Homo sapiens: one gene and its partner. The protein of the gene in region 1 interacts with the protein of each later gene in a pairwise test. Each region holds a gene or a part of one and is shown on either strand. Other genes may lie near its edges.

Region 1 (3,822 bases):
GGTTTGGGAACCTTCACCTAGATTTCACAGGATGTATGGAAATGCCTGGATGTGCAGGCAGAAGTTTGCTGCAGGGGCAGGGATCTCATGGAAAACCTCTGCTAGGGCAGTGCAGAAGGGAAATGTGGGGTCAGAGTCCCCACACAGAGTCTCTACTGGGGCTCTGCCTAGTGGAGCTGTGAGAAGAGGGCCACCATCCTTCAGACCCCAGAATGTTAGATCCACTGTCAGCTTGCATGTGCCTGGAAAAGCTGCAGACACTCAATGCCAGCCTGTGAAAGCAGCCAGGAGGGAAGCTGTACCCTGCAAAGCCACAGGAGCAGAGCTGCCCAAGACCATGGGAACCCACCTCTTGCAACAGTGTGACCTGGATGTGAGACATGGAGTCAAAGGAGTTCATTTTGGAGCTTTAAGATTTGACTGCCCTGCTGGATTTCGGACTTGCATGGGGCCTGTAGCCCCTTTGTTTTGACCAATTTCTCCCATTTGGAATGGCTGTATTTACCCAATGCCTGTACCCCCACTGTTTCTAGGAAGTAACTAACCAACTTTTGATTTTACAGGCTCATAGGTGGAAGGGACTTGCCATGTCTCAGTTGAGACTTTGGACTGTGGACTTTTGAGTTAATGCTGAAATGAGTTAAGACCTTGGGGGGGAACTGTTGGGAAGGCATAATTGCTTTTGAAATGTGAGGACATGAGATTTGGGATGGGCCAGGGGTAGAGTAATATGGTTTGTCTGTGTCCCCACTCAAATGTCATCTTGAATTCTCACATGTTGTGAGAGGGGTCCAGTGGGAGGTAACCGAATCATGAGGGTAGGTCTTTCCCATGCTGTTCTAGTGATAGTGAATAAGTCTCACAAGATCTGATGGTTTTATAAGGCAGAATTTCCCTGCACAAGCTCTCTTTTTGCCTGACATCATCCATGTAAGATATGACTTGCTCCTCTTTGCTCCTGCCATGATTGTGATGCTTCCCCAGCCACATGGAACTGTGAGTTCTCCATTAGACCTTTTTCCTTTGTAAATTGCCCAGTCTCTAGTCTGTCTTTATCAGCAGTGTGAAAATGGACTAATACATCCTCCTAAACAGATTTCCAAAGAGTATTTTATTCCACTTCCTTATTTTGCAATGGACACAGTAAAAATAAAGCATTATCATAATGAATATATACAACATATAAAAATCTTCTTTTTAATGCATCAAAATTTCTGAATTTGAAGCATTTCCTTTACCACATGCTGCCCAAGACCTTTTTTATTTTGTTGTTGTTGTTTGAAACAAAGTTTCTGTCACCCAGGCTGGAGTACAGTGGCAGGATCTTATCTCACTGCAGCCTCCACCTCCTAGGCTCAAGAAATCCTCCCACTTCAGCCTCCCCACTATTAATAGCTGGGACTATAGGCACATACTACCATGCCTGGCTATATTTTTTTTAATTTTTAGTAGAGATAAGGTCTCACTATGCCGCCCAGGGTGGTCTTGAACTCCTGAGCTCAAGCTATCCTCCTGCCTTGGCCTCCCAAAGGGTGGGGATTATAGGCATGAGCCACTGTTGCCAGGCACAAGGCCATTTTAGAACAATTTTTAAAAAGCTAGATGTTCACCAAAGTTTTAAAAAGTAAACACAAGGCCAGGTGCAGTGGCCCACACCTGTAATCCCAGCACTTTGGGGGGCCAAGGTGGGTGGATCAAGACCATCCTGGCTAACACGGCGAAACCCCATCTCTACTAAAAATACAAAAAATTAGCCAGCCATGGTGGCATGGGCCTGTAGTCTCAGCTACTCAGAAGGCTGAGGCAGGAGAATCTCTTGAACCAGGGAAGCGGAGATTGCGGTGAGCCGAGATTGCACCACTGCACTCCAGCCTGGGCAACAGAGCGAGACTCCATCTCAAAAAAAAAAAAAAAAAAGTAAACACAAATAGCTATTACTCAGCTGTGATCTGTAGTTGATTTTGTTTGGTTTTGCTTCTCATTCCTCTGTATATATTCCAAATTTTTAATGACAAGCTTTTTTTTTTTTGAGACAAGGTCTCACTCTGTTGCCCAGGCTGGAGTGCAATGACACTATCATGGCTCACTGAAGCCTTGACTTCCCAAGCACAGGTGATTCTCCCAAATCAGCCTCCTGAGTAGCTGGGACTACAGGCATGGGCCACCACACCTGGGTAATTTTTTGTATTTTTTTTGTAAAGATGGGATTTTGCCATGTTGCCCAGGCTACATATTTATTATTTTTATGATTAAAAATAAATCTATTTTGAAAGATTTTAAACTAACTGAAAATTTACTTTTAGAAAAGACAGTTGCACTACAAATGTAGAAACACAATAAGCACTTCAAATAGTATAAATCAAATAGCGAACCCATTAAGAGGGACTTAAGAAGCCTATATTCTTTAAAAACTTTAAAAAAGAAAGAAAGATAGCAAGCCACTTGGTGAGTGAATAATTTATCCTTTTAAATTTGACTTGTCTGAGATTTATTGTACATATATTTCCTGAACCAAAGCCTGGTAATCATGGACATGTATGTACTCACTAAGAGCAAAAAATAGATTCTTTGAAATGTGGACTACTCTCAAAAAAATTCAGGCCATAATGTTAGCACTTTTCAATTGCTTTCTAGTTCTGGAAAAACTTCAGCAACATATTCTATAAAACCTCATAAGCTAATATACACAGGACCAAATTCAGGTTTTCAATTATATCTTACCCATGTATCTGTCAAAGAAATTTTTGTTAAAGAGACAGCCCTGTGAGAAATGAGGTTGCATAACAGAAAGGATAATGAAAAAGGCATCAGAAACTTAGGTTCTAATTCTGATTCTGTCACTTTCTGTGAGAATTTGAGCAAATCACTTAAAATTTTTGGATGCCACCACTTGTCTTAGATATCTCTCCAAGCTTAGACTACCTCCATCTAGGGAATCATGATTAGTCCGGTAACCTGATTAGGTTTCTAGGGTTATACTTATTAATTATGTTTATTCTGTGTTCTAGAACTTTTAAAATATCAATGGTACATCAACTGGCAAGTGCTTAATGGAACATTGACAACTGCTAATCATATCTGTGATTCTTTTTTCAGACCAAAGTCTGCAGTGTAACAAAATGCTCAGATTCTGCTGTCTCTGGCCAATGGGAGGTGGTCACTATGCATGAAGAGAAGCAAGAGTCAGCCATCTTTGATGCTGTCATGGTCTGCACTGGCTTTCTTACTAATCCTTATTTGCCACTGGATTCCTTTCCAGGTACAGCATTTTCTGTAACTAACTTTAAGTTTTCTCGTGGGAGCCATTCTGATGCTTGATTGGTCTGGGAATGAATTCCTATGGCTGTTCCATTAAATAGTTAAAGTTGGGAGGTAGGAGGAGGCTTTTTTTGTTTTGTTTTGTTTTTTTCTAGCCAGCATTTTCTGGCCAGTTTTTGGCTTTCATTTGTTCCAAACAATCTGTGAATACATAAGAGCAAAATGGATAACTTTATAAGTATTTTTATGCTTTACCAAGATTCAATGTCCCTCAAGTGACTGGTAGCACTCAGAAAGTCTTCTGAGACATGGGATGCTTACACAAGTCATTAACTTCAGCAGCAGGTACACATTGCCAAAGTTGAGTTTAGAGGCCACAAAAGTCAATCTGTGAAAAAAGAAAAAAGTAATTTTTTCTATTTGTTCCTCTTATGTGAGTGATAGCAATTAGATTAGAGGTTTACGGCACTGGTCAATAGTCAAGAGGGAGATTAGTCTTGGGAGACAACTTAAGACATCTTTGGGTCTCAGTTTTCTTATCGGCCTTTTGCAACCATAGTCATG
Region 2 (3,822 bases), on another chromosome or scaffold:
ATAAACTGTGTGTTTGGAGTGCACAGTTTTGTGTTGTGACATATCTATACACCTGTGAAACCATTATCATAATCAAGATAGTAAACATATTCATCACCCTCAAATGTTTCTTTTTACCTCCCTCTACACCTCCATTTCCAGGCGATAATTTATCTACTCTGTCACTATATATTGGCTTGAATTTTCTTCCCCCTTTTTTTTTTTTTGAGATGGAGTTTCACTCTTGTTGCCCAGGCTGGAGTGCAATGGCGTGATAACGGCTCACCACAATCTCCGCCTCCTGGGTTCAAGTGATTCTCCTGCCTCAGCCTCCCAAGTAGTTGGGATTACAGGCATGCGCCACCATGCCAGGCTAATTTTGTATTTTTAGTAGAGACGGGGTTTCTCCATGTTGGTCAGGCTGGTCTCAAACTCCCGACCTCAGACCATCCGCCCGCCTCGGCCTCCCAAAGTGCTGGGATTACAGGCGTGAGCTACTGCCCCCAGCTGGTTTGAATTTTCTAGCTTTTTTTTTTTTTTGTTATTTTATAAATACAGCATATTCTCCTCTTTGGCTTTTAAAAAGTTCAGCATAAATTATTTTGAGATTTATCAGTGTTATGTAAATCGGTAGTTCATTCTTTTTAATTACTGAGTAGTAGTCCATTTGTGGATGAACCACGATTTGTACATTCCCTTGTTGATGGACTTTCGGCTTCTCACCAGTTTTTGGCTATTACAAATAAAGCTGCTGTGAACATCTGTGTGCCAATCTTTGTACAGAATACACTTTTTTAAAAGTAAATAGGAGTGAAATGGCTGGGTCATATGGTAGATGTATTTAACTTTTTAAGAAACTGTTGGCTGGGCATGGTGGCTCATGCGTGTAATCCCAGCACTTTGGGAGGCCGAGGCAGGAGGATTGCCTGAGCCCAGGGATTTGAGACCAGCCTGGGCAACATGGTAAGACTCCGTCTTTAAAAAAATAATAAAATAAAATAAATTGCCAAACTAATTATTTTAAAAGTAATTGTACAGTTGTACATTGCAGCTAGCACTGTATGATAATTCTAGTTCATCCATATCCTTACCAACACCTGGCCAATTTTAGCCCTTCCAATTGGTCTTTAGTGATGTCTCATTGTTCTTTTAATTTGTGCTTCCCTATGGCTAGTGGCATTCAGTATCTTTCCATAAGTTTTTTTTTTTTTCCTCCTCCGGCAGAGTCTCACTTTGGTTGCCCAGGCTGGAGTGCGGTGGCGTGATCTTGGCTCATTGCAGCCTTGACCTCCTGGGCGCAGGTAATTCTCCCACCTCAGCCTCTCGAGTAACTGGGACTACAGGCATATGCCACCATACCCAGCTAATTTTTTAATTTTTTATAGAGATGGGGTCTTACTATGTTGCCCAGACTGGTCTTGAACTCCTGGATTCAAGTCGTCCACCTGCCTCAGCCTCGCAAAGTGCTGGGATTACAGGTGTGAGCCATGTGCCCAACTTCCCTAAACTTATATGTCTTCTGTATATCCCTTTTGGCAAAGTGTCTGTTCTTGTCTTTTGCCTATTTTTTGTTGTTGTTGTTGGTTGGTTGTTTTCTTGTAATTGAGTTTTGAGAATTCGTTACATATTTGGGATGCAAGTCCCTCGTCAAATGATTTGCAAATACATTCTCTCTAGGCCGTGGTCCATCTTTTCATTCTCTCAGCAGTGTCTTGAAGAACAGGAATTTTAAATTTTGATGAAATTTATCAATTTGCTCTTTTATAGATCAGGGTTTTGGTTTCATATTTAAGAAATTGTTGCCTAATCCCAAATCATAGGAATTTCCTTCTATTTTTTCTTTTTTTTTTAGACGGAGTCTCTTTCTTTGTCGCCCAGGCTGGAGTGTAGTGGCACAATCTCTGCCCACTGCAATCTCCAGCTCACTGCAATCTCTGCCTCCCGGGTTCCAGCGATTCTCCTGCCTCAGCCTCCCGAGTAGCTGGGACTACAGGCATCCGCCACCACGCCTGGCTAATTTTTTGTATTTTTAGTAGAGTTGCAGTTTTAGTAGAGGCGGGGTTTCACCGCGCTAGCCAGGATGGTCTCAATCTCCTGACCTCGTGATCCACCTGCCTCGGCCTCCCAAAGTCTGGGATTACAGGCGTGAGTCATTGTGCTTGGCCTTCCTTCTATGTTTATGGAAGCTTTATAGTTTTAGATTTTACAATTGGGTTTGTGTTTAATTTTGATTACATTTTTATATGGTGCAAAATAAGGATGGAAATTATTTGTTTATGAACAGTTGTTCATTTGCTGAAAAATATGTTTTTATTCATTGAATAGCTTTTACATCTTTTTTTTTTTTTTTTTTTGAGATGGCGTCTTGTCCCATCGCCCATGCTAGAGTGCAGTGGCGCAATCTCGGCTCACTGCAACCTCCACTTCCCAGGTTCAAGCGATTCTCCTGCCTCAGCCTCCTGAGTAGCTGGGATTACAGGCGCACGCCACCACACCTGGCTAATTTTTGTATTTTTAATAGAGACAGGGTTTTACCATGTTGGCCAGGCTGGTCTCGAACTCCTGACCTCGTTATCCACCCATCTTGGCCTCCCAGAGTGCTGGGATTATGGGTGTGAGCCACCATGCCTGGTCTACTTTTGCATCTTTGTCAAAAATCAATTGTCCATATATTAGTCAGTCTCTGAACTCTTTATTCTGTTCCTTTGATCTATTTGTCTTTACATCAGTACCCTGCAGTCTTGATTACTGGAGGTTCATAAGACTTGAAAACTAACAGTCCCCCAATCTTGTTATTTTTTAAAGTCGTTTTAGTGATTCTGGGTCTTTGCATTTTAGAATTAGCCTGGCAATTTCCACAAGAAAGCCTTTTGGGATTGTTATTGGTATTCTTTTGCCGTGAAGATCTGTTTGGAAAGAATTGATCAAGTCTTCTGATGCATGAATGTAGTATCTCTCCATTTATTTTAGATCTGTAATTTCTTTCAGCTGAGTTTTGTAGTTTTCAGTTGACATGTCTTTCCCATCTTTTGTCAGATTATTCCGTTTCATATTTCTTGACGTTATTGTAAATGGTATCATTACATAAATGTAATTTTTTAAAATTTAAATTCACAATTGTTTGTTGCCAGCATATAGAAATACGGTTGATTTTTAAAAAATTGTTTAATTGTGGTAAAATACACATAGCAAAGAAGTTACCATCTTAACCATTCTTAAGTGTAGACTTCAGTAGTGTAAGTATATTCACATTGTTCTGCAGCCAATTTCCAGAACTACTTCTTCTTTCAAAACAAATTCTATACCCATGAAACAACAACTCCATTTTTTGCCATCCTCCCATTCCCTGACAACCACCATTCTCCTTTGTTTCTATGTGTTTGACTTACTTTAGATACCTCATATATATGGAATCATACCATATTCATCCTTATCTTTTTGTGATTGACTTATTTCATCTTGCATAATGTCCTCAAGGTTTGTCCATGTGTGCCGTGTGTCAAATTTTCCTTTTTTTTTTTTTTTTTGGACACATGGTCTCTCTCTCTGTTGCTCAGGCTGGAGTGCAGTGGCATGATCACGGCTCAGTGGAGCCTCGACCTCCCCAGGCTCAGGCGATCCTCCCACCTCAGCCTCCCAAGTAGCTGAGAGTACAGGCGCGCACGAGCAGGCCCAGCTAATTTTTGTATTTTTTGTAGAGTTGCAGTTTTGTCATGTTACCCAGGGTGGTCTCAAACTCCTGGGCTCAAGTGATACACCCGCCTTGGCCTCCCAAAGTGCGGGGATTACAGGCATGAGCCTCCATTCCTGGCCTCTTTGCCCATTTTTAAATTGGGTCATTTG

What was found.
Region 2: the proteins of FMO1 (region 1) and SLC71A2 interact in binary tests that used the Homo sapiens proteins (3 or more experiments, as listed by UniProt).

The regions. Positions count from the first base shown.
Region 1 is NC_000001.11:171,272,250-171,276,071, forward strand, and holds part of FMO1 (flavin-containing monooxygenase 1), read left to right. Parts: intron 1-3,096; coding exon 3,097-3,259; intron 3,260-3,822. UniProt on the Homo sapiens protein: Broad spectrum monooxygenase that catalyzes the oxygenation of a wide variety of nitrogen- and sulfur-containing compounds including xenobiotics.
Region 2 is NC_000009.12:94,380,848-94,384,669, forward strand, and holds part of SLC71A2 (hippocampus abundant transcript-like protein 1), read left to right. Parts: intron 1-3,822.